3 separate regions of the Homo sapiens genome follow, and all the other regions are linked to region 2. Evidence: fine-mapped expression QTL. A gene starts in region 2. Each other region holds a variant in brackets. All regions are shown on one strand. Distances are from middle to middle.

Evidence for each region. PIP is the estimated chance that this variant, and not a neighbour inherited with it, causes the effect.
Region 1: its variant is fine-mapped to the expression of ZMIZ1-AS1 in sigmoid colon (GTEx, PIP 0.91).
Region 3: its variant is fine-mapped to the expression of ZMIZ1-AS1 in fibroblasts (GTEx, PIP above 0.99). The same link has a PIP of 0.9 or more in thyroid.

What each region holds. Positions count from the first base shown.
Region 1 is chr10:79,039,936-79,049,904 of GRCh38, reverse strand. ZMIZ1-AS1 (ZMIZ1 antisense RNA 1) reads left to right here. Exons shown (of 10, transcript NR_024431.2): 5 at 973-1,131. Among named protein-coding and RNA genes, the nearest start is that of ZMIZ1-AS1, 23 kb to the left of the region's middle. RefSeq lists enhancers at 361-1,043, 1,479-1,538, 1,651-2,850 and a silencer at 2,776-2,835. The variant G/A (reference allele first, on the strand shown) is at 5,612.
Region 2 is chr10:79,062,094-79,072,062 of GRCh38, reverse strand. ZMIZ1-AS1 (ZMIZ1 antisense RNA 1) reads left to right here and starts at 4,615. Exons shown (of 10, transcript NR_024431.2): 1 at 4,615-4,675; 2 at 5,477-5,615; 3 at 6,244-6,316. ZMIZ1 (zinc finger MIZ-type containing 1) reads right to left here and starts at 3,097. Exons shown (of 25, transcript NM_020338.4): 1 at 2,793-3,097. RefSeq lists enhancers at 2,087-2,136, 3,338-4,183, silencers at 2,337-3,316, 3,577-3,646, 4,447-4,656, 4,757-4,806, 4,847-5,056 and a cis regulatory region at 2,779-3,464.
Region 3 is chr10:78,973,906-78,983,874 of GRCh38, reverse strand. The region is part of intron 5 of ZMIZ1-AS1 (ZMIZ1 antisense RNA 1); the gene reads left to right. Among named protein-coding and RNA genes, the nearest start is that of ZMIZ1-AS1, 89 kb to the left of the region's middle. RefSeq lists silencers at 1,423-1,614, 9,611-9,969 and enhancers at 2,294-2,373, 2,853-3,353, 3,354-3,854, 9,180-9,229. The variant T/G (reference allele first, on the strand shown) is at 5,940.

The DNA of each region.
Region 1 (9,969 bases), 22 kb after region 2:
TGTCGCCCAGGCTGGAGTGCAGTGGTGAGATCTTGGCTCACTGCAACCTCTGCCTCCTGGGTTCAAGCAATTCTCCTGCCTCAGCCTCCTGAGTAGCTGGGATTACAGGCGTCCGCCACCATGCCCAGCTAATTTTCTTGTGTTTTTAGTAGAGACAGAGTTTCACCATGTTGGCCAGGCTGGTCTCGAACTCCTGACCTCATGATCTGCTTGCCTGGCCTCCCAAAGTGCTGGGATTACAGGCGTGAGCCACTGCGCCGAGCCAGCAAAGTCTATCTTTATTTGCGGGAGGGGGGGGGCGGAAACTTGTTTGTTGGGTTTTTCTTTTTTATGTGTTTGTTTTTGGTGCAAATTGTTTGGCAGTGGACACGGCCAGAGGAATTCAGAGAGTGGAGACAGTGGATTTAGAAATTCAACTGAGAGGCCCTGGAAGTCCATTTGGGGCCTGCCATCTAGCTGATGCTCAGCACAGGGCTTGGCGTCGCGTGCCCTACCACCTGGCCTCCCAGGCTTTGCCCAATCTGTGGCTTCCCCTGGAATGTAGTTCTCTGCTCTTCTCTGCTGATCAGACCCCTCCCCTCAGGTCCAGGCCCTTGGGACCACTCTCTCCAAGTCTCCTCCCCTGCCCCAGCGCCTCTATCTGTTCCCACTCTGGTCCCAATTTGTAATACCTGCTCATGCAGCCTGCCTGTCCCAGAAGCAGCCTGGGTTCACCAGGACAGGTGTCTGTCCTGTCCCACCAGTCAGGCTCAAAGTCTGTCCAGGAAGGCAAGTCCGACCCTCAGTCCTGGAGGGGGCCATGCAGTGAGCTGGCAAAGACCTGTACAGGCTCATCCAGGAAGTCTCGGCCCAGAGGCTGAAGGGTGGCCAACCAGCACAGTTTGCCCAGGAACGAGGTAGGGGAGGGGCGGGGGGCGGTTTCCTGGGATGCGGGACTTTCAGTGCTAAGCTGGAATGCCCTGTTCACCCTAGCTGAAGCCACTTGCTCAGAGCCGCACAGCAAGCCCACCACCCTGAACCTCCAGATTACCAACTCAGCATTGTGTCCTGACAGTGTCATCATAGATGGTCAACACCGTCACCTGGGCAGCACTGAAGCCCAGAGCGGGAGAGACTGGCTCAAGACCATGGGTAAGTCAGCAGCAAAGCTGGGGAAAGGAAACCACCAACCTGAGAGCCCCTGGCTGGTTCCCAAATCCAGGCCCTTACTTCTCTTCCCCACCATCCAGGGTGGGGGGCAGACACCCAGTGAAATGGCCTGCCCCAAAGGAGGGGAGCCTTGCCGAGCCACCCCAGGCCACCTCAGACCCACACCCCCAGCTCAGCGGTTGGAGGGGCTGAGGAGGGGCTGAGCCGCCACCCCCTCCCCACCCCAGTGCCAGGGCCCCAGCCTTGCAGCGCTTGTCCCCAGCCCAGATGAGCAGGGCGCCCTTATCAGATCTCCGTTTCTGTTTCTCTCCTCTGGCTGCTTCTGCCTGGCCCTGCCCCCAACCCCGGTGGCCTTTTCCTCTCTGAAGTGATGTTCCTTTTCCTGTCACCAACACACACAGCACACAGAGAAGTTTGTTTCTGTTGCTTTAAAAAAGTTTCCTTCTGGGGAGGAGGGCAAGGGGTTGTTTACTGGGCCTGCAAAGCCTCACCGTGGGTGTGGGCATGGGTGTGGCATGGGTGTGGGTGGCAACTGGGTCCCTGCTGGATTTGGGGTTGGTGGAGGCTGCACCCACGACCCTGGGCCTCTGGATCCTGTGCAAAAGCCAGGAACGTGGAAGGAAAACCTCCTGTGCACCCTGCTCAGGGCTGGGCTGGTTCACCCACCGTCCAGCCACACTCCTGCAGAAACCTGGGAGGTCAGGGGTTTTGTTTTCCATTTTCCACAGGAGACAGCTGAGGCTCGGCCAAGGTTGCCAGGGTCCAAGCCTATGGATTTGTGGTCTGGGCTCTGCCAGTGGCATGGCACTGTCTTCAAAGCTCCCACCCTACCATTTTTCTTACCCACACAGGGCAGGCTCGACCCAGCTAAGGAACACAGCTTCCTGAAGCATCTGTCCTGGGCCGTTGGCCCTTCTGTGGACAGGGCTTGAGCTCTGTAGGCTGGATTTGAATTTCAAGTCCTCCTGCTGTGTGACCTTGAACAAGTTACTTAGCCTCTCTGAGCATCAAATGGCTTAACTATCAAATAAGAAGCACAGAGAAGTCCCCAAGAGCCAGTAGACTCTGGAGGCTGTGAGACCGGGGACTGGGGCTCCTGCATCCTTAATGAAGGTTTCAGTCTTGAGTCGCGTCTGGGAGACCTGCTGAAGCAATGGGGAGCTACTGTAGGTGGGTAAACAAGGGAGAGTGTGATGGAGGCCATGTTCTAAAAGGATTCTATAGGCAGCAGAAGGGAGGAGGGCTCAGGGGAGAGGTGGAGGAGCTGCAGGGGAGAGGTGGAGGCTGGGAGGCCAACAAAGGAGGCTTTGACTTCCTTTTCAGAAAAATAAGGCCACCCACCTCCCACCAGGAGCAAGAGTCATGGAGGGAGACTGTCTCAGCTGGCCTGGCCTGGCTCCTGCCCAGGACAGAGATCCCGGCCCCTGGACTCCTCCAGCAGCCCAGTGTAGGGGAGGAGTGCCTTCCTCCCCATGCCCAGGGTAGCCCCTTGTCTGAGAGTGGTGGTTGTGGCAGGCCCTGCTGAGAACTGCAGTTTCATTTCCCACTGACCTCCACCCACTGGACTCTCCCAGGCTCTTGTTTCAAGCTGCCTAGTGCTAACCCCAGCCCTTGAGCCAGCTCGCTCCAGCCTTTACCTCAGACCAGGGCACTGGGGCTGTGTGTAGGACTCACACCTCCCAGGTCTGTCTCTTACCTTGGGACCCTTAGGGCAGGAACACGGGAGGGGGGCTCTGATGTATGATGTCAGGGAACTCCGAGGGCCACCTCCTCCTCTGACAAAAGCACCTTCTTTGTCAAGTGAGTAATTCCTCTGACACATGTCGCTCTGACATGGCACAGGTCTTCTTAAAGATGAACGTCCTCCATGACCTGTGTGGGTTTCCTGGGAATAACCCACAGTAGTGGTCAAGGAGGCCAGGAAAGAAGAACTTCTACTGTTTCCCCCTTTTCCAAATTTGTTGGATGGAGATATAGAGGGTGGGGCCACCTTATTCTTCAAAAGGATTTTTAACAGCAGGGAAAAGGAAGGGTTGAGTCTCACAGTCCACACTGCAGCCACCATAACCATTTCCCAGACAAGTAAACTAAGGCCCAGGGCGAGATCCCAGGCTTCCTTACTCAACTTCCAGCCAGGGCAGAGTCTCTCGAACGAAAGAAGGGACGCTGCTGCATGGCTCACGTGCTCAGCCCTGGTAATAGAAATACGTCTCCAGTGAGATCTAATTGTAACTCTCATTGGGACCTGCGTCACCTACAAGGCTGGCAGCCAGACACCCTGAGAATGCACCAGCTTTACTCTTTTTTTTTTTTTTTTTTTTGAGATGAAGTCTTGCTCTGCTGTACAGTCTAGAGTGCAGTGGCATGATCTCGGCTCGCCACACCCTCTGCCTTCCAGATTCAGGCAATCTCCTGCCTCAGCCTCCCTATTATATGGGATTACAGGCATGCATCACCACAGCCTGGCTGATTTGTGTGTGTGCGTGTGTGGTATTTTTAGTAGAGATGGGGGTTTCACGATGTTAACCAGTCTGGTCTCAAACTCCTGAGCTCAAGTGATCTGCCCACCTCGACCTCCCAAAGTGCTGGGATCACAGGGGTCAGCCACTGCACCTGGCCTACGAGCTTTACTCTTTCCCTGGGTGATAGGGTGATGGCAGTCTCTGGGGCAGGGGGAGGAGTGCTGTGCCACATGCCCTGGGCACCTGCTTTGCTGCATGTCCTTCTCCAAGGCTCTGATCCTCTCTGGGCCTCTTTATTTCTTGCAGTGCCTGCCTCATGGGATTGCAGGGACCAAAGGATTTGGGTGCCGGCAATTGGAGGGCCGTTCTGTGGGCCAGCATTGGGCAGGCGCCTCCCACATGGTTCTCTTTTTGTCCTCCCAGTAGCCCTGTGCATCAGACGCAGAGCTGTGCTGCATGCACCCACTTGCCCCACTCGCCTCAGAGGAGCGTTCCTTGCAGGAGGAATTTGATAGATTTTAATACCAGGGTCCCCTGCTGACCAGGCTTTGCATTTCCTTACCTACCCTCGGCTCTAACTTTGGCCTGGCGAAGCAGGGCACCACAGGACATCAGGGTCACACATCTCAGACCACAAGAGCCTCAGCAGTCTCCAAGACAAAGTAGAGATTGAAGGCCCTGCTTCTCCTTCCAGAGTACTGAGGAGCCTCCTGCCTTCCTGAGTGAGGCTGGGGGATCAAAGCTCAACAATAGTGGGTTGTCAGAATTACGTTTCTAGAAAGGAAAATCAAGACTGATTTTTATGGGGAGTATAGCATTATGCTCCAGTAATAGTACTATTAGCTCCATTGCACAGAGGAGGAAATTGAGGCTTAGAGAATTTCTGATTGTCTAAAGACATCTTTCCTGGAACTGGTGGATCAGGGACAAGAACCCTGATTTGTTGATGTCAAAGCGTGTGTAGTTTTTCCTTTTTTATATCTTCTGGATCAGCAAGACCACCGCATTTGGGGAACAGAAGGCACAATGGGGGGAGTGGCACAGCTGCAACGTGAAGGGCTCCATGTGGGGCCTTGGAGACACCAAGCTGCCCTCCTCCTGGTCCGAGCTGCCCACTTCCCATCCCTCATCCCTCCTCCTTCAGCTTAGGGCCAGCTGCACCTGGCTCCAGGCCCTCCACTCAGTGTGGAGAAGTCCTGGCCCTCCTCACCACCTTCCCACAGCCCCTGCTCAGCTGCAGAGCCTGCCGTGGGCCTTCTAAAGCTGTGTACTGCTCCCAAAGGTGGCAGCAGGCAGAGCCAGGCCTTGCTGGGGGCTCCTTCACCCCTTGGAGTCTGGGCCTCAGAGTGACGTCCCAGGCTGAGGCTCATTGGGAGGGGTCAGCATTGGCATCAGGAGACTGGGGTCAAGTCTGAGTTCTGACAGTGACTGTGTGACCTTGGACAGTCACTTGCCCTCGCTGGGCCTTGGTTTTCCTGTTGTGAAGTCATATGGTCCTGGGATGTGGGCAAGGGTAGAGAAATGAGACACTTCAGCTCCCCACTCACAAGCCGTGCCCCCTCAGGCCCACCACTTAGGTTTTCTTAGCCCCTCCATTTTCCCCGGCATAAAATGGGGATAATGAAGCCCATTCCTTCTGATCGTTAAGGAAACCAGCATTTACTGAAGGCTCGGCCCCGTGCAAGATGCTCTCTGAAGCATTTTCTCTCATGGACTCCCATCCATCCAACAATGAAATGAAATGTCTTGCTTTTGGTCTTTCATACAATGTCTCTTTGCAGCCTCTCCTGGTCTGACAGTCTCAGATGCAGTCATGGATGGCTTTCTGGAGGAGGTGGTACCTGGTCTGTGGGAAGTAGGGGTCAGCATCCTGGTCTCTGGGAGCATCTGCTCCAGATGGTTTCCCTGGGGCCCCCAGAAGCAGGTGTTTGCGCTAACAGCTCTGCAAGCAGAGAGCTTCAGTGCATGGCCCTTCTTGCCCTTGTTCCCAGGCACATGCT[G/A]TTCCCCTGGGGCTGAATACCCCACTTACTTGTAAATCCCAGTGCTCTCCTGTTCATTCTGCAGTGCCAGCACAAGTCTCCTCCTTGGGGAAGGCTTTCTGGACTTCCCAGCCCACTGGCCATTGTTCCGTCTTGCAGGTGCCCCCTCAGGGTGCCTGCTGTAACCGTCACTCACATATCTCCCCCACCCAACAGAGGGCCTTGCTTTTGGTCCTGGACCTGCACCTTTGACTGTATTCTTAGTGATTTGTCCAAGCCCACCCTGGGAGATAGGGGCGGTGCCAGGCTAGCACCCAGTTCTCCTGGGTTCTCTGAGAAAGTTCCTACCTTCTTCCCTGGCTCACAAGTAGTACTTAAGCAGTTTTGGTTGTTAAAGAAAATACTGAATTTATTCTTCCAACCACTCATATATATATATAAATCAGTGTTATTGAGAAACAATTTACAAAATGCACCCATTTTCACTGTACAGTTCAGTGAATTTTAACAGGTGTGTACAGTGGTGTAAACACTGCCACACCCAAGATATCACACATTTCCATCACCCCTCAAAATCTCCTCATACCCCTTCCTGATCAATCCCTCTTCCTGCCTCAGGCAACATTTGATTTGATTTTATCAATATCGATTAGTTTTGCATGTTCTAGAATGTCCTATAAATTGTGATTAGGCAGTATGTACTTTCTGTGTAGTGCCATGCATGTTGTATCTTGCATGAGTAGTTCGGCCCTTTGCATTGCTGGGTAGTATTCTGGAGAATGGACATTCCACAATTTGTTTATCTGTTCACCAATTGATAGAATTTGGGTTATTTCCAGTTTGGGGATTTTATGAATAAAGCTGCTATGAACATTCATGTGAACATGTTTTCATTTACCTTGGGCTAATGCCTGGAACTGGTATTGTTGTATTGTCAGGGTAAGTATATGTTTTACTATATAAGAAATTGCCAAATTCTTTTCCAAAGTGTTTGCACCATTTTAGCCACCAGGAGTGTATAAGAGTTCCATTTGTTCCATATCTTGTCAACACTTGGTATCATCGGTCTTTGAGCAATTCTAGTGAGTATGTAATGGCAACTGTTGCTTTAATTTGCAATTCCACGACAACTAGTAATGTTGAAAATGTTGATCATCTGGTTATGTGCATATGCCTTTTTTGGCAAAGCACCTGTTTGAATCTTTTGCCTAGTTTTACTGGTTGTTTGTCTTCTTATTGAGTTCTAAGAATTCTTCATATGAATTCTTGACACAAGTGCTTTGTCAGATATCTGTGTTGCAAAATATTTTCCCAGTTGGTATCTTGCCTTTTCATTTTCCTAATTGTATCTTTTGAAGAGTAAAAGTCTGATTGATCAGTTTTTGCTTGTCTAGTTAGTGCTTGACATGACTTGTTTAAGGAAACTTTGCCTGCCAACAAGGCTGCAGATATTTTCTCTGCAGTTTTCTTCTAGATGTTTTATAGTTTTAGCTTTTGTGTTCAGATATATCGTCTGTTTTGAGTTCCTTTTTATGAATGATGTGAGGTGGAATTGAGGTCCATATAGATATCCATTTGCTTTCTCTATCATATTTGTTACTGTTTTCTGTTATTGCCCTTGTTTTTCATTCTTGGTTTTGCTTTCCACTCTTTTTCTGCTGTTTGTGGTTTTAATCAGGCATTTTATATGATTCTATGTTATCTTCTTTCTTAGCATATCATTATACTTTTTTTTTTTCTTTTCTTAGTGGTTGCCCTGGAGTTTGCAATATACATTTACAGCTAATCCAATTCCATTTTCAAATAACACTGCACTGTTTCATGGGCAATGCATGTACCTTGTAATAACAAAGTATTCCTTCCCCTCTCTCTCTTCCCTTGTAACATTGCTGTCTTTCATTTTACCAACCCATAAACTATAATCATTGAATACATTGTTGCTGTTATTTTGAACAAACTGTTATCTGTTGTATCAATTAAGAAAAAGTTGCTTTTTTTTTTTACCTCCATTTATCCTTCTATGCATTCTTTCTTTATGTAGATCTGAGTGTCTGACCTGTATCATTTTCCTTCTCTCTAAAGAACTTATTTTAACATTTTCTGCAAGGCATGTATACTGGCAACAAATTCACTCAAATTTTGCTTGTCTGAGAAAGTATTTACTTTTGAAAGATAATTTGGCAGCATATAGAATTCTAGGTTGATGGGTTTTTTGGTTTGTTTATTTTGTTTCTCTCTCAACAGTTTAAATATTTCAATCTACTCTGTTTTTTTTGTGTGTGTGAATGGTTTCTGAGAAGTCTGGTGTAATTCTTACCTTCTTTGCTCTTCAATAGATAAGAGTTTTGTTTTTTTTTTCTTCTGCCTTCTTTCAAAATTTTTCTTTATCTTTGATTTTCTGCAGTTTGAATAGACAGTCCTAGGTGTGGATTTTTTGGAATTTATCCTACTCACTGTTCTCTGTGCTTCCTGGATCTGTGGTTTGGTATCTGACTTTAATTTTGGGAAATTGTCAGTCATTATTACTTCAAATATTTCTTCTGTTCCTTTCTTTCTTCTTCTTTTGACATTACTATTATACACATATTATACCTTTTGTAGTCCTGCTTGGATATTCTGTTCAATTGCTTTCAGCCTTTTTTGCTCTTTGCTTTCTAGTTTTGAAAGTTCTATTGTCATATCCTCAAACTTACAAATTCTTTCCTCTGCTGTGTCCAGTCTGCTAATGAGCCTATCAAAGGCATTCTTAATTTCTGTTACAATGTTTTTAATTCCTAGCATTTCTTTTTGATTCTTTATTAGAATTTGTATCTCTCTGCTTATATCACCCATCTGTTGTTACACGTTGTCTACTTTTTCCCTTAGAGACCTTAGCATATTAATCATACTTCATACTTGCTTTAAAGTTCTGGTCTGATAATTCCAATATCCCTGTCGTATTTGTGTCTAGGTCTGGTGCTTGTTATGCCTTTGCTGTATTTTTTTCCTTTTTGTGTGCCTTATAAATTGTTGTTGAAGCTAGATCTGATGTACCAGGTAAAAGTAATCTGGTACTAGTTCCCACAGAGGGTTCTACTGATGGGTTTCTGCTCTGATAAGTTGTAATTCTCTGTTTTCACTTGTCTATCTCTCCAGTTTTGGAGGCATTAGTTTGCCCCATGGCCTCAATTCTCTGATGAATCTAAGAAGAGTTGTTGGTTTTCAGTTTGTTTAGCTGTTTTCTTATTGTGAGGATGACAGCGATGATTCCCAAGCTCCTTACATGCTGGAATAGAAACTGGAAGTCTGGTATTTTTTTGTTTTCATGTCTTTTCTTACAAATATAATTCTTTGCCCACTGAATAACCTTATCACTTTTGTAAAAAATCAGTTGCATAGTCCCGCTACTTGGGGACTTTCTTCTGTTCCATTGATCCATATATCTTTCCTTATACCAATACCATACTCTATTGACTACTGTAGCTGTGTAGTAAATCCTGAAATCAAGAAGCATAAGTTCTCCAAATATGTTATTTTTTAAAAAGTGTTTTGGGTATTCTAGGAAGTCCTTTTCATTTTCATATAAATTTTAGGATCAGTTTGTTGATGTCTGTTTTTTAAAAGAGTCTGCTGAGATTTTTCATTGGTTTGTAGTCTTCTTATATTGTGTTTGCCTGGTGTTATTAAGCACAGTACTGCTGAGCTTGTGAAACAACTTGGGAAGTATTCCATCCTCTATGGTTTGAAAGAATTTGTGTTTGGTATTATTTTCTACTTAAATATTTGATAAAATTCACTATAGATATATATGGGCTTGGAGTTTCTTTTAGGGAAGGTTTTGTGAGTTACATTTCTGTAATAAATATGGAGCTATTTGTTTTGTTTTTCTTACGCCAATCTTGATAATTTGTTTGTTTGTTTGTTTGTTTTTTGAGATGGAGTCTTGCTCTGTCACCCAGGTTGGAGTGCAATGGCACGATCTTGGCTCACTGCAACCTCCGCCTCCCCGGTTCAAGCAATTCTCCTGCCTCAACCTCCTGAGTAGCTGGGATTACAGGCATGTGCCACCACACCTGGCTAATTTTTGTATTTTTAGTAGAGACGGGGTTTCACCATGTTGGCCAGGCTGGTCTCAAATTTGTGACCTTAAGTGATCTGCCCACCTCTGCCTCCCAAAGTGCTGGGATTATAGGCATGAGCCACCGTGCCCAGCCAATAATTTCTATTGTTAAATGAATTTGTCTCGTTTATTTGAGGTGCCAAAGTTGTGATCTTAAAGTTGTTTATAATATTATTTTGGTATCCTTTTAACATCTGTAAGATCTGCAGTGATGAATCCACTTTGATTCCTGATATTGGTCATTTGTGTTTTCTTTTTTCTTCATCAGTCTAGCTAGAAG
Region 2 (9,969 bases):
CAACTCTTCTCAGTAAGCCCTACCCAAAATGCCAAATCCACCTCTTGAATCCACTCCCTACTGCTCCCTTCTCCTCCCCCCACCCAGCCCCCACCCCCAGTCACTGCCACCAACTCTCAGAAGTCTAAACTTTTGAGATTTACATGTGAAAACAGCGTTTCAAAACCTCGTGATTTGGGACAAGGAGACGCTTCTGTCCTTTGGGGGAAAACAAAACCCAACCGAAAATCATAAAGCTCAGAAGAAAACACCATCTCCCTCCAAATGCATTCCCTGGGCCCCCAACTCACACGTGCTCTGTAGCAGATAGGGCTTTCAATGTGTCTTTTGTTTGATGCTGATGTTTCAACATCCTCGACTTGAAGAGGGAAAGGTCAGCCCAAGGCTTGGGGTATTCACAAACCCACCCGGCCCCTGCACTGGGGCCAGGAGCCAGCAAGTGAGGGGCCAGGAATTTCCCCCACTCTGGACCCCCTCACAAAGCAGCCGGGGCTGAGAAGGCTAAGAAAGAGCTTGCTCTCTCATCTCAACTTCCCCGATAGCTCAACAGCAGCTTCACACTCCCGGGACCGTACAAGCGCCAGCGAACGCAGGCTGGAATTCACCAGCGCCAAGCTGCCCGGCTCTCCAGCCCCGGCGCCTGCCTCTTTATCTGTACCTTCAAAAACAGTAATAAGCAAACCCAGGCACCTCTGGGAACAGCCTCTGGCCTCCTGCCCTGCCCTGTGTAACCAGCCTGTCCTCACACCCACCAGGGAGGAGGAGTCGGCACTGGTTAACCCTCTGGTCTACCAGGCCCGGTTCCCAGGTTGCAGCAGGGAGACAAACTGTTGCTCAAGAAAATCCTTCAGAAAACCCTTGGCACCAGGAGGCAGCTCGGAGCGGCTCTGCACCCGGCGCGGAGCCAGGGGCTTCCACAGGCGGCCGCCCACTGCCCTTTTAAATCTTTGGGGCTGGGCCCTACTCTCCCATGCCCTGGGCTGTCCACCCAGAGGGCTCCAAATGTCCGTGGCAGAGCAGAGAGGAGGGAAAGGCTGGCCGAGCCGTGCCCTCACCCCGCCAGCCCAGCCGCCAGCTTCTTGGAGGACCTCTGAGAGAACATTTGTTTGGGCTGCCAAGTTAAATCTTCCTCCCTCATGTCAGGGCATTGGAAAAGCAGTCAGGGGAGAGGAGAAGGGGGAGAGCGCGCGGGGGAAGGAGCAGCGGGAGGGAGGGAGGGAGGGAGGCAGGCGGGCAGGCTCAAAGCCCCAGTTACTCGGGCACTGCCTACCCAGGAAGCTGACGGCTCCCGGGCAGGCGCAGCCGGGGCTCCGGGCACCGAAGCAGGGACCCGGCCGTCAGGCCTCCCCGGTCAGGCAAGGGTACCAAGCACCCTTGGCCCACCTGGGAGCGGCCCTCGCTCTGTGACCTGCTGGAGGGACGAGGTGGGAAGGGAAGGCAGAGAAGGAAAAAGTTTGCTGCAGGTAGAGGGGTAGGGCTGGGCGGCAGTGCCGACCGGCTGTCCCCGGGGAGGGGTGGGGGGCCCGGACCGGCTGCCCTGGCGCGCTCCCGTCCGCCCGCCCTCCCGCCCGGGTTGTTTACATTCCTGGAGTGTCTTTTAAACCCGGGGCTGAGGCCGGCTCCCGGCCTTCTCCGGCGGCTCCGGGGCAGTCTCCCGTGAAAATCTGCTGGCGCACAATGGCCGGGAAGGCGGCCGCCCCTCGCCCGCGCCCCCACCGCTCCAGGGCGGGGAGCCTGCCCTCCGCACCGCGCCCTATCCCCGCCCGGCCGGCTTCCTGGACAGATGTCCCCAGCGAGGGGGCGACGCGCGCCCGCTGCCCGCGCCCTAGACGCCGAGGCCGCGCTCCCCACTGTTTTTTCCCCAGCCCAGACGCCAGGAATGTGAAGCAAGCTTCCAGAACCCGCCTCCCCCCCCCGACCCCGGCTCCAGCCCCGGCCCCCCAACCTCCGCCCCGGCTGGCCTCCCACTCCCCCGGGGCCACCGCCGCCGGAGACGGAGAGGAAGAAAGAACACGGGGAAATTACTTTCGTATTTGCAACGCGCGCGCGCACACACACGCACATCTTCCCCCTGGGCTCCCCTCCTGGCCGGGGCAGCCCCGTCCAGGCACTGGCCTGAGCGCCCCTCTGGCTTGCGAAGCCCTGGGAGAAAACCCTGCACACACACCTCCGCGTTTCTCGTTTGTACCGCGCGCCAGCTTTCCCCGGGCAATTCCCACACAAACAACTTAACCGCGCCCCCACCTCCCATTTACAAAAGTGTATGTTTTCCCTGGAAATTCAGACGCACAAGTTAACACCACCACCCCTTGCCATCCTGAAATCCAGCGCTTTCCCCAGCGGTTCCTGTACACACACAGGCGCACAACTTCGCATCTCCCCAGAGGAGGCGAAGGAGACCGAGGCGGTCCTTCCCTCCCTCCTCCGATTCCCGGTCCTGCCCGGCCCCCGGGTGTAGGGAGCGAGGGCTGGAGGCGCGCCGGCAGGAGGCGGGCACCGGGTCCGCGCGCGCACGACCACACTTACGCCCCGCACACCCTGACAAACCCGGCCCCCACGCGCAGCCCAAGCCGGCTCCGCGCAGCCGGGAGCTCGCCGGCCGCCGGGCCTCGGCCCCCGGCCGCCAAGGAGAGCGGAGCGGAGCCCGCGCCGCCGGCCGGTCGCCCCGCTCCGGGGGACACTTTAAGGGAAAAACCCCAGCACCCAATCCCCACGCTTGCACCCCGAGAGTCCCCGGGGAGCGGGAGGTAGCCCCGGAGCCAGCGGGCGCCTGGCTCTGGCCCCAAACTTACCGGGCGCTGCGAGCGCCGCTGCCGCCGCTGGAGGACGCGCCGCCGCCACCGCCGGGTAGGGCAGGCTCGGGCCGGGAGGAGCGCAGCGAGGGCGCCGAGATCCGCTCGGCTCCGGCTCCTGCTCCGCGCCGGCTGGGGCTGGGGTCACCGCGCTGCGCCGGCGTTGCTCGCTCGCTCGGCCGCCCGATCGCTGCTCGCCCGCCTGCCGCCCGGCCGCCCGCTCTCCCCGGCGCCCGCCGCCGCCGCTCGCTTTTTTAATGTCCACAGACAGTGAAAAGGAACTCGGCGTTAGGGGGTGAGTAAGTGAATCAACTCGCCCGGAGCCGAGCAAGTTGAAGTGTCAGATTACATTGGCTATTCTATTTCCAAAGGGCCCCGCGCCGCCGGCCGCCCGCAAAAGCCGGTGCGGAGTCAGGCCGGAGTGGAGCGCCGCGCCGCGCCGCCGCCGCTGCCGGCGCTCGGCTTGGCTCGCGCTCTGCGCTCTCTTTCCCCTTTCCTTTTCGCCTCTCCTCGTTCTCTCCCTCGCCTTTCCTTTCCTTTCTCTTCCTCTCTTCCTCGCTCCTCGGTCTCGGCGCTCTCCCAGCTTTTCTTCTCCTGGCTCCTGGTTCCCCGCTACGCCACCAGTCCACTCACCTCTCTCCTTGCCCTACTCCCTCCGCTACTCCCTGACGCCCCCTGCAGCCCCCAGCCCCCCTGCAGGCCCCAGCCCCAGTAAGTTTGGAGAGGGGAACAAATGCTGAGCCTAGGTAGGGACCACCTTGGGGAGGAAGCCAAAATCACACTGCTCACCCGAGAGCCCCTGCCCCGCGCTGGCACGCCCCCGCCTGGAGTGCACTCGTGGCCCCGGGCGCTGTCAGGTACCCGAATTGGGGTAAGCGAGTTGGTAACTGGACCTCCAAAGCCTTCCCCTGGGGTTGACTTTGGAATTGTTCCTACAGCCCGGGGACTGGTGGTTGGGGTGGGAAGAGGACCACCACCACCAAGGGTGACTTTGAGGGAGACTAGAGCGCGGCCCCCCGACAGCTGTGGGGGAGCGGGGGTGTGGTGGCCACAGTTGATCCGCGGCACCTAGCACAGTCCAGAGACGCGTGGATTCCCCTAGGCCCGGCGCGGAGCGCCCGGGGCGCTGTGCGCGCGGGCTGCGTGGGAGCTGCTAGGCTGGGGCCTGGCCCTCTGCCCCGGACTGGGCACTGCCAGAGATAGCGGAGAGCTAAGGTACTCACGAGGCGCAGTTGGGTGCACCCACTCGCGGGAGTTCCCCTAGCCGACCCACCCCCCCCCCCCGAGAGCATCCAACTACGCGCCCACTTTGGCTCACGTCCACTGCCACTCTCACGGAAACTCCTACAAGAACGGCACACACGTTCGCTCCCTCAGCATTGCAAACACGCTCCCCCCCAAACCACAAACGCGCCCCCACACACTCGCTTACTTTCCCTCACAAAGATGCCCGCTTACACGGCCACAGCAGGCACGCTCAGAGACACGCAGTTACACACACACATCGCTGTACACAACCCCACATACAATCAAAAAACAAAACACGAAACGTTCCCCTGGGCACTAAATCCTCACGTTAACGTACACACACAAACACACGCCCTCCTCTCCCACTTCCTCTTCCATACCCCTTCCTCGAGGCCCCCCACCCCTGATTTTCGGCACCCCCAGTCCCAATCATAATTGGCGCCCGCGCAGCCCTCTTTGGACACACACGCGCCGCCCACGCACGCGCTCCCCTCCCCGGCAGGCGGGGGCGGCTTCGGCCGGGAGCCGGCGGAGCCCGCTTCGGATTCCAGGTGTGGCAGTGACTCCGCGCTCCACGTTTTGCAGGCTGCCACCGTGTCGGAGGCGAGGCGAGGAAGGGAGCTGGAATAACAAAGGCAAGTTGGGGAGAGCGCAAGGGGGCGCAGCCCCGGCCGGGCTGCGGGGGGAGCCTTGCACGGCCGGGGCTTCGGAGGCTGCAGGGTCGGGGGCGCGGGGAGCCGGAGGTGGGGGAGGAAGGGTGGGGGGAGAGGGGCGGGGCTGAGGCGTGACGTCAGAGAACAATGACACCGCCGGGGGGCGGGCACCCGGAGGCGGCCCAGGCGGGGGTCTCCCCCGGGGCCTGGGGCGGGCCGAAGATGTCCAGGCCTGGCCGGAGCCGCCTCCTGATTGACGAGGCCCGCATGGGAGTGCGGACGTGCAGCACAGATTTGCGGGTCTCCTGGGCCTCTTGGGCGGTGATCAGCGCGGACCTTGGGCCAACCGGGGAAGCAGGCCGGAGCACTACCCCCCACCCCCATTTTAGAACATCCTTCTGAGGGCTTCGCTGACCTCGGCTTGAACTCCTTCAGAGCCGGAGAGATCACTCCTTCCACCACCGAGGGAGAGGAGGCAAAATGAATTTGCCAGCTTTGAATTCATTCTCAAGGCTCCGCTAGTCTCACAGCCAGTGAACTCAGTCTGGAATTCCTGAAAGCTCAGAAAACTGCTGCTTAGGTCCACCCGGGCGTGGGGGACGGGGTGTGTGGGGGCGCAGGCGGCGGAGTGGGGGCGTTATTTTATTTTCCCCAGGGGAAATTCTGCCTCCCTATGCCATTGGGTGCAAGAAAAGGCACTCCTTTGGGGCCTCAGTCTTCCTACCTGTCACATGGACATGGACTGTGATGACTGCTGCTCTTCCACCCCCGCCCTCCCTGTAGGTGGCAGCTGAGCATCCCTGGAGAGGGTGGGTGGTATGAAAGCACTTCCAGACCTCTAGGGACACCAGGGAGTCATGGTCCCAGCACATTGCTGTGTGATTGAGCCCCTCCTCAGCCTGTGGGTGGCCTAAGTTCACAGGTAGGTACACCAGGGCCACCTGAGAAACCTCCGAAGGTAGGAATTAAGCTTGCAGAACGGTGGCTGCAGCCACAGCTGTCCCACTCCCAGCAATCCACAGCATTGCAGCAGTGGCAGCAGCCACCCCATACCCAGGTCCAAAATCCCAAAAGAGAGTTTCTGGGTATTTAAGGATTTGGGATGTGATAATCCAGCCCAGCCCACAATTAGACCAGTTCTTGTTGCCTTAATGACCAGCTAGGTCTGGACGCCCAGCCCTCTCAACCTTTCTGTCCAGATTCCTCAATAAGTATCCAGGGCCTGCCCACTTCCAGGAATTGGGGGATGCAGGTGACCTCGGAGGTGACCACTCATGTTCAAAGTCTCCTGTCCAGAAGCTCCACCCCCTACCCCACATCCCAGCCCCCTACTCTCCCACCAGTATTTACATCTGAAACCCAGGAAGTGGCTGCAGAGGGCAGAGGAGCCAAGTAGGCTCAACTTAGTAGCATGGAACCAGGGATCATTTCAACCCTCCCCTTCTGTGCAAGCATGGCAGCAAGTCAGAAAGCCCACCAGGGTCCTGGGTCTTCCCTAGGCTCCAGTCCTTGGGTCTCTGAGGCCCTTGCTCTCTTTGTTCATCTTCCAGGGAGGTAATGGGGTAGATTGGATACCTCTGGGGTCTTGGAAGAAGCTATGACTTATTTACTGTCTACTATGTGGTGAGTACTGTGGTGGGTCCTCCTAGGTATTGAGAATTCAGTTCCCTGATTGAACTGTCACATTGTCTTAAGTTAGGTGCCGCTACCATCCCCCTTTCAGAGGAAACTCAACTGTGAATGACTTGCCCAAGATTGGTCAGGATGGGAACTCGGGCCCCCATGAACAGAGTTTCCTGTTGTCCCCTCAGCCCTGGCTCTGTTCATCCATAGACTGTGTAGCCCCAAGCAAGCTGCTTTCCCCCTCTGAGCCCCTGTAAGGTCCATGGTGCCATCAGGACTCACTGGGAACTGTGTGTCCAACAACCTCACCCCCAAAGTCTCAGCCTCACTGGGCCTGGAGATCTGCTGGTGAGACAAGAGAGGACAGTGCCATCACTTCCTCGTGGCCCAGAGCTGGAAGATGCATCCTGCTCAGCCCCTGCAGGCCCAGAAGTCACCTGGCTCCACTAGGAGGGCATGGGCAGTGTGGGGCCGCCAGGTTGTACCAACCTTCAGAGCACACTCAAGTGCTGTTAATTTCCCTGTCCTGTGGGAGCCACCAGCAGATTGGGGAGAGGACCATTGCTGGGGCCTGGGCCCAGGTTTCAGGAGGCAGAAAATCTGGAGGCCAGCAGGATGGTGGGGGTGGGAGGCTTGAGGTCCCTGAGGGAAGCAAAGGACTTGTGTAGGGTGCGGCGAGTATGGCCTCCTAGGCTGGGCTGGGATGGGGGCGGGTACACAGTGGGGATTCCCACCTGTCCAGGAGCTGCCTTCTCTGTCCCCACTCTCCACCTCTCACTTCTGGAACTTAAGGGAGCCAGGGAACATCTAAAATTGAGACTAGAGAGGTGGGAAGAAAATCTCATTCATTGAGTACTTACTGTATGCCACGCACTTTGGAAACATTCGTTGTATTCTCTCCACAAGCCAGGTGTCATTCCCTGCTAAGGGAAGAGGCTCAGAGAGGTTAAGTGACCTGCTCAAGATCTCATAGCTGGCTGAGCATGGTGGCTCATGCCTGTAATCTGTGCACTTTAGGAGGCCAAGGCAGGGTAGATCACTTGAGCTCAGGAGTTCGAGACCAGCCTGGGCAACATAGCAAGACCTTGCCTCTACAAAAAATACAAAAATTAACCAGGCATGGTGGCACATACCTGTAGTCCCAGCTATTTGGGAAGCTGAGGTCGGAGGATCACTTGATCCTGGGAGGCTGAGGCTGTAGTGAGCCATGATTGTGCCACTGCACTCCAGACTGGGCAACAGGGCATGACCCTGTCTCATAAAAACGAAACAAAACAATAAAGATCTCAGAGCTGCTAAGTGGGTGGAGCCGAGATTGGGCTCCAGGTTGGGCTGGGCCTTGAGGTTGAGAATAGGGACTTGCCCTCATCTCACTGCCAGGTTATGGTGCAGATAAGGTAACCTACCAGGTACTTTGGGGTGAAGTAAAGACTCTCACCCACTTGCCAGGGAATGACCAGGGTGCCTCCCATGGCAGTGAGGTAATGGAGATTACATTTAGAGTTCACCCCTTGGTGGATACAGGAAGCATTTGGGCCCTGCCCAGCTCTGAGCCCTGTGCCTCTAAGAGGTGAGTGGTTGGGTCAAGCAGGGAAGATCTATGTCCTTCAGCGAATTAGGCTCCCCTGCTCTGCCTCCCCCTCATTTCCAATCAGATGGCCCCTCCATTCTCTGAGCCCACACCTTCCCATCCTCCAAGGCTTGACTCTCCAATGTCCTTCCCTCAAGCCAGCCGTCTTCTCACTTTCTACCATGGAGTTCTGCCCTATGGTTCGAGACCCAGTTCAACCACCAACCCCTTCTTCAGATGGGAGTCACAAGAGAATAGGCTGGGAGCCTGCCTCAGGAGCCGGGACACCTATGTGCCCAGCCCGCCATTGCCTGACTTGCTGTGTGGCCTGAGCACATCACAAACTCTCCCTGTGCCTGTTCCCCATCTGCCAAGTGAGAGAGTGTGGGATATCCACCAGCACTTTTGCCTCTGATTGTCCTAAGATTCTGTAGGTCTGAGCCTTTAACCCTTGGACTGAGCTACAGTTCACTTTAGAGTTTGAGGGCGGCCCTGCTTTAGGGAGGGCTTTCAGAGGGGGCCATTTAGTGGAGTAGGGACAAGAAAATACCTGGAGGGAGCTGCTCAGAACTGTGACTATCTAGGACTGTGAATAGGTAATGACCCTAACGCCTCCCTTCATGAGGCACCTCTCACCCTCTGAGCCTCACAACAGCCCTTTTGTGGGTGACTAAGCTGAGCCCCAAAAGGAGGTGATGGCTTTCCCTGACTGCACCACTGGGAAGCACCAGAGCTGGAACAAGAGCCAGGTCTCAGCCAGGCATGGTGGCACATGCCTGTAGTCCCAGCAACTCGGTGGGGGGACAAGAGGGGGTGCAAGAGCCACATCTCCTCATGCAGTGTCCCCTCACCTGCGTCAGGGCCCCTCCAGAGGAGCAAGTACATGCGGCACTGATGAGGAAGTCTGGGACAAGCGACCTGAGGAGGACCATGCCTCCCACTTCCTTCCTGATAGCTCCTGCACCCCGAGAGGGGTGGGGGAAGGTCTCAGATCCTCAGCATCTCTCCTCCTTCTGGCTGTGCAGTCCTCCAGCCTCAAGACTCATGCTTCCTTGCCCTCACCTCATCCTGTGGCCATGCAGGGTGACTTCCAGAATTGCCAGCATTATGTACATACTCTTACCTCTGTGCCATTGCTCATGCTCTTCCTACCTCCTGGGACACACCCCTCCCAGTCACCAAGGCCACATCTGCAACCACTTGCTTGGAAGCCTACCCTGATACCTCCACCAGATGTGCCGTCTTCCTTGTCTTAACCCCCATATGCTGCTCTCCCAGCCTCCAACATCAGCATAACCATAGGAATTACTTGTGAAGTTCCTGCTATGTTCCAGGCATTGAGTAGCTCATACACATGAACTCCTCCCATCCTCTGAGCTATTAGTATTCTCATTTTACAGATGAGGAAACTGAGGCACAGGGAGTTTCATTTCCTAGTATGACACCTCACAGGCTAGGGAGGTATTGTGTTACATGGCCCTCTTCTGTCAAGGCTGCAGGTCATAGGATGGCTCACTGCTACATCCCATCACCCAGTGCAAGGCCTTGGGGGCTGACAGGCCATCCGGAGCAGGGGAGGTATAGAGGCCCACAGGATGGAGGATGACCAGAACCAGCCCTCTGGGGGCTCACAGTCTCTCAGGAAGGACTGCCCACACCAAATGCCATTCTTTTTTTTTTTTTTTTTTCTTGAGACAGAGTTTTGCTCTGTCGCCCAGGCTGGAGTGTGCAGTGGTGAGATCTCGGCTCACTGCAAGCTCCGCCTCCCAGGTTCACACCATTCTCCTGCCTCAGCCTCCCGAGTAGCTGGGACTATGCCACCATACCCGGCTAATTTTTTGTGTTTTTAGTAGAGATGGGGTTTCACCATGTTAACCAGGATGGTCTGCATCTCCTGACCTCATTATCCACCCGCCTTGGCCCCCCAAAGTGCTGGGATTATAGGCATGAGCCACCGCACCCGGCCACCCAATGCCATTCTAAGAGTTCGGGGAAGAAGAAGAGTTGGCATTGAGTGGGTCCTGGAAGGCAAGCTCTGGTGGGGCTGTGGGGAAGCCAGAGTGGGGCATGGACCTGCCTAAGG
Region 3 (9,969 bases), 88 kb after region 2:
TGTTGATTGACATGGAAAAAAGCTGTGGGAACTGGTGCTTCAGAGAGAGAGTGATACTTGAGCAGGGCTGTGAAGAATGCATAGGAGTTCATAAGGTAGGTAAGAGAGGACGAGCAGCATGTGCTGAGAGAACAGACCATGAGAAGCCATTGAGGGAAGAAACACGTTTAAGGAATGTTGGAAAGTATGATAGGGCTACATTCAAGGTGACAAGATGAGGCGGTATATTACCAAAATGTGTGAATATCAGGCTATGGAGTTTGGACATTATCCCACAGCTCATTCCTTCAGGTATTTATTCCACTAATATTTACTCAGCACTTACTATATATTAGACTGTGCTAGGTACTGGGCACACCTCAGTGAAAAAATAAAGGTCTTGTTCCCTGTCCCTGTGGAGCTTAGAGTCTAGGAAGGATCCAATGAAAATGATCAAGCAGTAAGCAACATAGTCAATCCAGGATCTTAGGAAAAATGAGTTCATAGTAGCTGAAGTGGAGGATGGATCAGAAGGCAGAGGTGAGGAAACAGGTCAGAAGGAGGCTGGAAAGCGCACAGGCCAGAGATGAGTGTCTGAGCCTGGGCGGTGTGGAGGGGATGGAGAGGAGGCGACGTGTGATAGATCAGAAATGGCTGCACATCGTTGCTGCTCCTCCTATCAAGAAATAGAGTCTAATTTTTGGCCCTTGCATTGAACTGCTTGATCAGTAAATAGAATGTGGCAGAAGTGATGTTTGGGACTTCCAAGGCTGAGTCATAAGAAAGCACACAGGTTGCTTGGGATCCTTGGAACACTCCATGTGGAAGCCTTGAGCCCCCATGGAATCCAGTTACCCCAAGGCTGCCACGTGACAGGTGCTCTGGAGGACAGTTTCAGTGGAGCTCTGCCTTCCAGGCGTCCCCATCATGATGCCAGACATGCGAGTGAAGCCAACACAGGGCTTTCAGAAGGGCCCATCCACCAGCTGAATAGTACTTGAGTAGCACCCATGCACGCCATAGGGACTGGAAGATTTACCCGGCTGAACCCTGTGTGAATTCCTGATCAACACAAATCTCAAGATAGAATAAAATCGTTTTCATTATCAGTCACTAAGTTGTAGAGTAGTTTAGTATACAGCAACAGAGAAACTGGAACAGAATGGAAGACAGAGGCCCTCAGAAGGCAAAGCCAACAGGGCCTACCCTCTAGATGGAAGGAAGAATGCCTGTCACTAAAGGCGGCGTTGAGGGATTGGGGCATTGACATTGGAGTTACCAGATTTAGGAAAATAAAAATACAGGATGCCCCGGTGAATTTCGGGTAAAGAATGAATACATTTGTAGTATAGTATCTCCCGTGTTGTATGGGACATACTTATACTAAACACTCATTGTTAACCTAAAATCCAAAGCTAACTGAGCACCCAGTATTTCACCTGGCCACCTGGTCCAAGTTGGGGAAATGATCTGTGTAAGGGCTAGAGGTGGAGATCTAGGAAGACATCTAGGAAGCCTGAGAGATGATGGGGTGAGGGGCCCTGGGGTCAAATGTGTAGGGTCCGGGAAGCCCAGGCAGGGGGCAGACTGTGCCACTGGCCGTGGAGAGTCCATGTGGGTCCATGTGGGAACTGGAGCATGTTCCCTTGGCAAGTTTCTTGGCTGTGGCTGTGCCTGGGCCCCCTCTCAGGAGCCACACTCTATATGTGGTGCTAGTGACCGGGACAGGCAAGTGCAGCCCTCTCTGCCCTGACGCGCCACCTCCCTGCAGCATGTGAGGAATGTGGCCTGCTGAGAGCTCCCTGCATGGCTGTGGCTGGGTGCCCAGGCTGCTGTCCATCTGCCCTGCGGAGGCATCTCCTTCCCCATCCCATCCTGTTGGTTCTCCTTGCAGACTGCTGTCCCATTAAATCCACAGACTTCTCCTCCACATCTTCAGAAATGCTGACACACGAGCACTGTCTGGAGACTTGTCTGCTGGTGGTGTGTGGAGCGCTCCCCGGAGCAGGGCTGGGCTGAGGTGGCAGAGAGCTCTCCTCCCTCCTGCAGGGCCTGGGGCTGGGGGACTCCTGGCACTCTCCACTCTCTCTTCTGTTCCCAGCCTCCTGGAGAGCCAGGCCTTTTCTAACCCTGGGAAGCCCCCGGGAGAGGTGCATTCAGGCTGCTACTCCAGGGTCTGCTGCTTCTGTCCTGTCTCTCCCCAGACCCTCACAATAGCTGTGTCTGACGTCTCTCACCTGGAGAGGAAGCTGTCCTCCTAAGTCTGCATGCAGAGCCGCAGCCACCTCTGAGCTAGGGGAAGTGTGGGGTTCTGGCCTGGGTTGGGAAGTCCCTCTTATGGCCACACCTCTTCCCTTGGGGCTCTGGCTTGGAGTCCCTTTGAAGCAGGCCTTTCTCTACAACCTCCTATGGCTCCCCATTGCCCATGCATCAGCCTGAATGGCCTGGTTGGCCTCACCCTGCCTACCCCAGTCTGCCCATCACCTTTTCTTCCTCTTGACCCAGACACACCACCCTGGTTGGCAGGAACCTTCCCTCTGCACATCCTCTCCCCCAGCACTGCTCAGACTCCACTTCTTTGTTGGGAAACCATCAGACCTACTGTGTGCTGAGCACTGAGCTAGGTGCTCTAGGGGACACCATGTGATTTGGATGAGGCCCCCCCCTTCAAGGAATGAGGGGTTCCCTTGAGAAGACAGGGAGGTACGGTAGACAGATGGGCAAACCAAGTCAGAACTGGGTGTCTTCCCTTCTAGAGTCAAGAATCTAGAGCCGATCTCTTCAATGCTAGCAAGTGACTGAGTGACCATGACTGAGTGCCCCGAGGTTTCTGAGCCTCAGGTGCCTCATCATGAACTGTAGCCAATGCTACTCTTTTCCTTCCTACCCCACAGAGTGTGAGAATCAAGTGAGACAGCAATTGCGAAAGCTGGGCAGCAACATGTTTCTTAGTGGATAGGGATTATTTTTGTCTGGTGGAGCACATCTTTGTTTATTTGTTTGTTTGTCTGAACATAAAGGGCTGCTCTGCAGAAGCGGAGGACAAATGGTTCAACTCCAGCTGGGTGAGTTGAGGCAGGTTCCGTGGAGAAGGGTCACTGGAGGTGGGACTGAAAGAGCACGAAGGGATTTTCCATGAAGATGAAGTCAAGATGGGGCAGCGAGCGGTGGGAAGGGCGTTTCATTCTCTGCAGATGGCATGTGCAAAGCCACTGGAGAGCAACAGAGCCTGGCATATGTGGCCACCCAGGCTGACACCCAGGGTGTGTGAGGAAGGGTGAGACAGAATGGGGAGCCCAGGGATGCTGGAGGGAAGAGGTCACCCTGGGGTCAGCATGGGAAGGCCTTTGCCTGCCAGCTGAGGAGTCTGGACTTCATCCACTTGACAGCGGGGAGCCAAGGAAGGCTTTTTGCAGGAGTGACACGGTCAAAGGCATGCCTTGCCCCTTCTTGATGCCGTCGTAGCTCCTCTCCCTTTTTTCAAATTTTGCCTCCTCTGTGGAGTTTTCTCTAAATGTTCTGAGTCCCCCGACTCGGGGCACAGCTGATGCTCTTGGGGCTGACCAAGGAGGGGGTTGCCTCCTGTCTGTCCTTCCCCGGTGCCAGCCTGAAGCCCAGTGCTGCCTAGGTACCTCATGTCCTTCACCGAATCTCACTGACTGTCCCAGTACGCATAAACCGTGCTCCTGTCTCTTGCTCTGTGATGTTGGCATGAAATACTCAGATGCCACCACAGCAAGGATTGACCCACATCTCTGGGGTCAAACCAGCTCGGAGGGGCCAAGTCATGTCTCGATTTGATTTTCCTGGATTAGAGTCAAGCTCAGTGACTGTAACAAAAACAGCACCCCCTCCCTTGGTTTAGAAGAGTTGTCATCCCTGGATCTGGCGGCTCTGGGCTGTTTTTATTTTTAACAACCAGAGTTGCCTTGTGGCTGGAGGTGAAAAGCAAAATGCATAGAGAGCAGAGAGGAGGCTGTGTCTATGGGGTCCCTATGGATGGGGGCACAATCATCTCACGAGCGCCTTGGTGACGTCGAGGCTGCACCCTCATTCATAGCCTCCAGGAATTCTCTATGTAGATCTTAAAGTCCCAAAGGGTACTCTGGTTCTATTCTTAACTCTGTAAGAATAAGGGGGATACTTATAACTCTATAAGTATAAGGGAGAAACTGAGGCCCCATGTGGGATGCATCAACTCAGATCACACTGGGGGTCAATGGCAGAACCGGGAGTAGAACCGTGCTTCTTGCTTCCTGGTGGGTGCATTTTTTCCCGGCCCCAGCTTGGTTCTATGTATGGGGACTAAACTGAGTCAGGGAGAGCTTGGAGGGGAGGTGCTGGAGTTGAGATAGAGCTGGAAGAAAGGGAGCTTCAGTGACAGACACCGATGCAAAGCTGGGACAGAGCTGCTGGGGAAGATCTGGCTTAGATTTGGCCAAAAATTGTACACTGCTCATTTTAAATGCTGTATGGTGTGCCCAGTTCAGCCACCCATCCGCTGGAAAGGGTGGAAGGCAACACAATACTTTTTTTTTTTTTGAGATGGAGTCTTGCTCTGTTGCCCAGGCTGGAGCGCAGTGGCCCGATTTTGGCTCGCTGCAACCTTCACCTCCTGAGTTCAAGCAATTCTCCTGCCTCAGCCTCCTGAGTATCTGGGATTACAGGCGTGTGCCACCATGCCTGGGTAATTTTTGTATTTTTAGTAGAGATGGGGTTTCACCATGTTGGCCAGGCTTGTCTTGAACTCCTGATCTCAGGTGATCTACCCAGCTCAGCCTCCCAGAGTGCTGGGATTACAATCGTGAGCCACTGTGCCCGGCCAATACTTTCAAGATTTCCTAAGTATGGAAGGAGGAGCCACCCTTAGGCTCCGCTTGGAGCACGGCTGGAGAGGATAGCTGGGCATGAGCTGGGTATCCACTGAGTGCCAGGCATCTTTCTTACCTCCACCTATTTCTCCTGAGCACCTAGTCAGTTCTGGGTGTTGAGGGTATGGATATCAAAACAGAATCCTACACTTTATGGAGAAGACACCCATCTCGACAAGCACTGTTTTTTTTTTTTTTTTTTGAGATGGAGTTTCGCTCTTGTTTCCCAGGCTGGAGTGCAGTGGCAGGATCTCGGCTCACTGCAACCTCCACCTCCTGGGTTCAAGCAATTCTCCTGCCTCAGCCTCCTGAGTAGCTGGGATTACAGGCTAATTTTTTGTATTTTTAGTAGAGATGCGGTTTCACCATGTTGGCCAGGCTGGTCTTGAATTCCTGACCTCAGGTGATCCACCTGCCTCAGCCTCCCAAAGTGCTGGGATTACAGGCGTGAGCCACCGCACTGGCCTAAACAAGTACTTTGAACAGAATGATCTTATCCCCTAGCACAGCATCAGCCTCAGGTGGGAGGAGGGGTAGTCAGTGGAGGCTTTCTGGAAGAGGAGGCGCCTGAGATCAGTCTTGAAAGACGAGAGAATTAAGCAGACTGAAAATGGGGCAGAGTGCTGTCAGCAGATGAAACAGCGTGAACAAAACCAGGGAGGCATGAAGCTGTGTGAAGTGATTATTGCCTTGTGCTGTGATAACACACACCCCAGCCCAGGGTGGAGGGAGAGGATTCTGGAGGCTCAGTGGGGCACTGGGTCTGCCGGTGGGCCACCCTTAGCAGTTTGATTTCATCTTACAGGTTCTAAAGCTGGAGAGCGGCTTGTTTGGATTTGCATTTTAAGTGGTGACCCTGGCAGCAGTGTGGCAGCTGACTCAGTGAGCAGAGGCATGAGGCAGGGGAGGCTGTTGCAATAACCCAGACAGGAGATGATGAGGGCTTGACCTTGGGCTGTGGTAGCGGGACAGGGAGAGGGACGGGTTGAGAAACATTTAGGAGGTCAAGTTGTTGGGACCCAGAGACTGATGGGATGTGTGTGGGATGAGAGGGAGGAGTCAAGGTGGCCTTGTCCTGGGGCTGAGCAG[T/G]GGTGCAACCCAGCCCTGAGGAATTCCGGGAGTGGAGCCGACTTGGAAACTCAAGGCCAATCTCAGGTTGAGACATGGTGAGTCTGAGGTGCCTATGAGGTGTTAAGGTGGCCACAGAACCCCAGGAGGCAGCTGGAAACCCAGGGTCTGGAGGGCAGGAGAGGCTGAGCCAGACGTGTACGTCTGGAAAGGATAAGCCCACAGCAGTGGGGGAACCACAGGGGTGGTGAGACGGTCCAGGAAGACCCACAGAGGGAAGAAGGGATCTCTCCCTGCCATCCTTGGCCTCTAGTGAGTGGGTGGAGGAAGGGGCACCCGCAGGAGAGGAGGGATGGTCAGAGAGGTAGGAGGCTAGCAGAAATGGTGATGTCACGTGGTCCCGGGGAGGACACAGCTGTTAAGTGTGAGGATGTGGGGGACTGCACTGAATGCAGTAAAGTATCCCACAAGAAGAGGACAGCAAGTGGCCTGCCAGGGAGAGGCAGAGATTAGGGAAGATCTCCTTAGGATGGGAGAGATGTGAGCACATGCAGAGGCCTGGTGAGAGCAGGAAGTCTTGGTAGAGAGGGACATGCTGTAGGCCAGGGAGAGATGGGCGAGGTTCCAGAGCGGGCCTGCCCAGCACCTCACTGCAAGGGTGGGCTGGCAGGCTGAAGAGAGACCTTCCTTACCCTCTGATTCTGGACAGAGGATACTCAGGATGGGTGTGGGGCTGTGTTTGGAGGCAGGGCAGGGGCAGCAGGTCCCACCAAAGGGCCTTCATATTTTGACGAAGCCAAGTGTCTCTGGGAATTGAGGTTGGCAGAGGGAGAAGGGTGAAGGTCAGTGAGACAAAGAACCCATGAGGGAAATGGGAGGCCGGCAAGCAGGCAGAGGACTTTGGGTTCATGTCCACGGTGCAGTTGAGACTGGAGACCTCATGTTGACACTGGCGCCAAATCTTCATGCTGTGGGCCCTTGCCAGCCTAAGCTTGCCGTGTAAAGAGTGTGGTTGGGTTGGCCCCTGTTAAGTCTGGCTGGGCGGATGAAGGGAAGGATGGGGGTACTAAGAAATCAGGGGTGCTGGTGAGAGGGTCATTCTGATGACCAAACCATTGGAGCAGTTGGAGAATGTGGTCAGAGGGAAAGAAGAGATGTTGGGGTTAAGATGGAAGAGGAAAAGCAGTTTCGAGTGGTGGCCTGGGATTGGGGGCTGGACTTGAGTAGGCTAGAGGGTCCCTGGAGAAGGGTGCTGGAGGTCCGGGGAGTCCAGGTATTGGATGGGTCACCCACATGGATGCTGAAGGCCATCAGCTGCTGGCAGACCTTGGACAGGGAAGGAGAGGCAGCGACCTGAGGCTGGGTAGTTCAGGAGCAAAAGATGCTGGCTAGGAAGGTGGGATCCAAGAGGTTGGGAGAGAGGGGAAAGTAGTAGAATCAGGAGGCATGAACCCTAAATGAGAAAAAAAAATCCCATTCTAGGGCAGGGTGCAGTGGCTCATGTCTGTAAACTCAGCACTTTGGGAGGCTGAGGTGGGCAGATCACTTGAGCCTAGGAGTTCGAGACCAGCCTGGGCAACATGGCAAGACCCTGTCTCTCAAAAAAAAAAAAAAAAAGAAAGGGTCTGATGGCCTCACAGTCTGGAAACACCCCTAGGGATGTGAAAGGGATGTGGGGATCTTGGGAACCACACAAGGGAGTGAGATGTAGGAACAGAAACAGCCGCCCCAGAGAGGATAGAGGAGATGGGTCACCAGCGGCAAAGCCTCCATCACAAGGCTGAGGACAGAGGGGGTGCTCTTAAAGGAAGTGGGGTCCCAGAAGGGCCAGTGGGGAGGTCTGGGAAGGAAGGTCGGTGAGGCAAAGCGCAGTGACAAGGGATATGACTAAAGGAGGGTGCACTGTGAGCTGTCAGCAAGGAAGCAGGGGTGGGTGGCATGGGGCAGGGTTTCCAAGAGGCAGGGGTCTGTAGGATGAGTGGGAGTTTCTCTGGTGAATACAGGAGGCAACGGGCAGGGAAGAGTGGTCAACAAGCGGGAATTCATTCGTTCCGCAGACACTCACTGGGGCTTCCTATGCTTGGGATGCATCAGTGAACAAAGTGGCAATCCTCACTCTTGTGGGTCTTACACTCTAGCTGGAGGAGGTGGGGGACAGAAAACATCACAAATACGGTCAGAGGTGAATTGTAGAGTGTGTTAGAGGGCCATGAGGCTGTGGCCAAAAGAACAAGCTGAACGGAGCCAAATGGAGTTGTGCAGGTGGAGGGGGCAGGGGCTGGGGGAGCCACTTTGAAGTCGCCGCATAGTGGTCAGGGCAGGCCCGCGTAAGGCTGGCACTCTGGGCCCATGTAGAGTTCCACCCAGTTTGACAGGAACGGCAGTGGGGCTGAGGATCTTGGGAGAGGTGCCTGTATGGTTACTCTGCTGGGTGGTACATGGGAAAATCTCAAGACAAGAATCTTCAGGTTGAGTGAGAAGGGATGGGAAAAGGAGGCAGAGAAAGCAGAAGAAAACCAATATCCACGGGCACCTGCCGAGGGCCAGGCATTGCCCTGGGGACGGCCTCTTGAATTGGTCTCTCCTAACCCTCAAGACAACCCTGTGAGTTAGGAAGGAATTGTTCTTATGGGTCCAGTTTATTTGAAAACAATAGCACCATCAACATGAGCTAATGCTTAGTGCTGTCCTGAACAGTTTGCCTGGATTTTCCTAATGCACCCTCCTGAGCTCCCATTGAGGCTGGTGTCACTGTCTCCACTTTCCAATAACAAGTCTGAGGAAGCTGGGAAGTGTCAGTGCAGTGGCCAAGCTCGTGGACCCCGCAGCCAGCCTGCTGGGTTGGCTTCCCTGCTCACCAGCTGTGTGGCTTTCGGCAATTCCTTAACCTTTCTGGGCTCAGCTTCCTAACCTGGAAAAGAGGAGAGTAAAAGCACCTGCTTTGCAGGGTCGTGGTGAGGATTAAATGAGGGAATATATGGAAAGCACGCAGAACAGGCCCCTGCACCTAGTGGGCGCTGTGCAAGGGTGCGCTGCTGCTATAGTACTATTCCTGCCCCAGCTCACTTAGGAGAAGGCTTTGACCTGGAGCCTGGTGGGACCGACCCTCGCCTCTTCCCGGCTGACACTTTGCTCTCTGTGGTTCTGGACTTGCAGAGCCAGGCTGGGGAGGAAGGAGCTGTGTGACTCCCACCGGGCCTGCTCCTTTGCGGCAGGCATGTGACATATTGTGGCGTGATGTGTTTTCCCCTCATGGTGCAAGACGTGACTCAGAGGGGCATGCTGGGGAAATGAGTTTCTTGGATTTGCCCACCTCATCGCCCCTGCATTCTTTTGAATTTCTCTGAATCAGACTTTATATCTGGCTCTGCCATTCACCAGCCTTATTTATGCAGAAAACAGCCCCACATTTCCAACTTGCTCCACAGCAGTAAAGATTCATCTTTGGCCCGGGGAGGGTAGCAAAAGAGAGGAGGGAAGGGGAAAAAAAGGAAAAAGAAAGAAAAAGGAAGGAAGAAAGAAAGAGCCAGCAACAATCAAAACAACCTTTTTCTCCCTGTGTAATCTGGGCGGCTTCCAGGAGGATAATGTCTTTCCACCGTGGATCGCCCCCTCCCTCCCAGGCTGTTTTCACAGGAAGTAAACCCTGGAGCATTTTCAATGTGCCCCTCCAGGCAGAACAATGAGGCCCTTGAAGCCTCGGAACCCGCGCTTCCTCCAGTTATCCGGAGCCGCGCCGCTGAGGGGAGCCATCTCTGGGGAGGGGGCAGGGGGGAGGGGCGAGTCTGCAGGGCGTTGCGGAGCCGCACGAGGGAAGCCCATTAGTCAAATAATAGGTTTGGATCCGACTGTTTTGCCAAGGTACCCGGCATTTACCCGCTCCCCGATTGGGGGCGGGGAGCTGGGAGGAGGCAGCGAGGATCCAATTACGGCTGCTACTGCCCGGTCGCCGGGAGGTGGCGGCGGGCGGGCCGGGCCGGGCTGGGCCGGGCGGGGCCGGGAGGAGCGGGGATCGGGGATCGGGGATCGGGGATCGGGAGCGCAAGCCTCG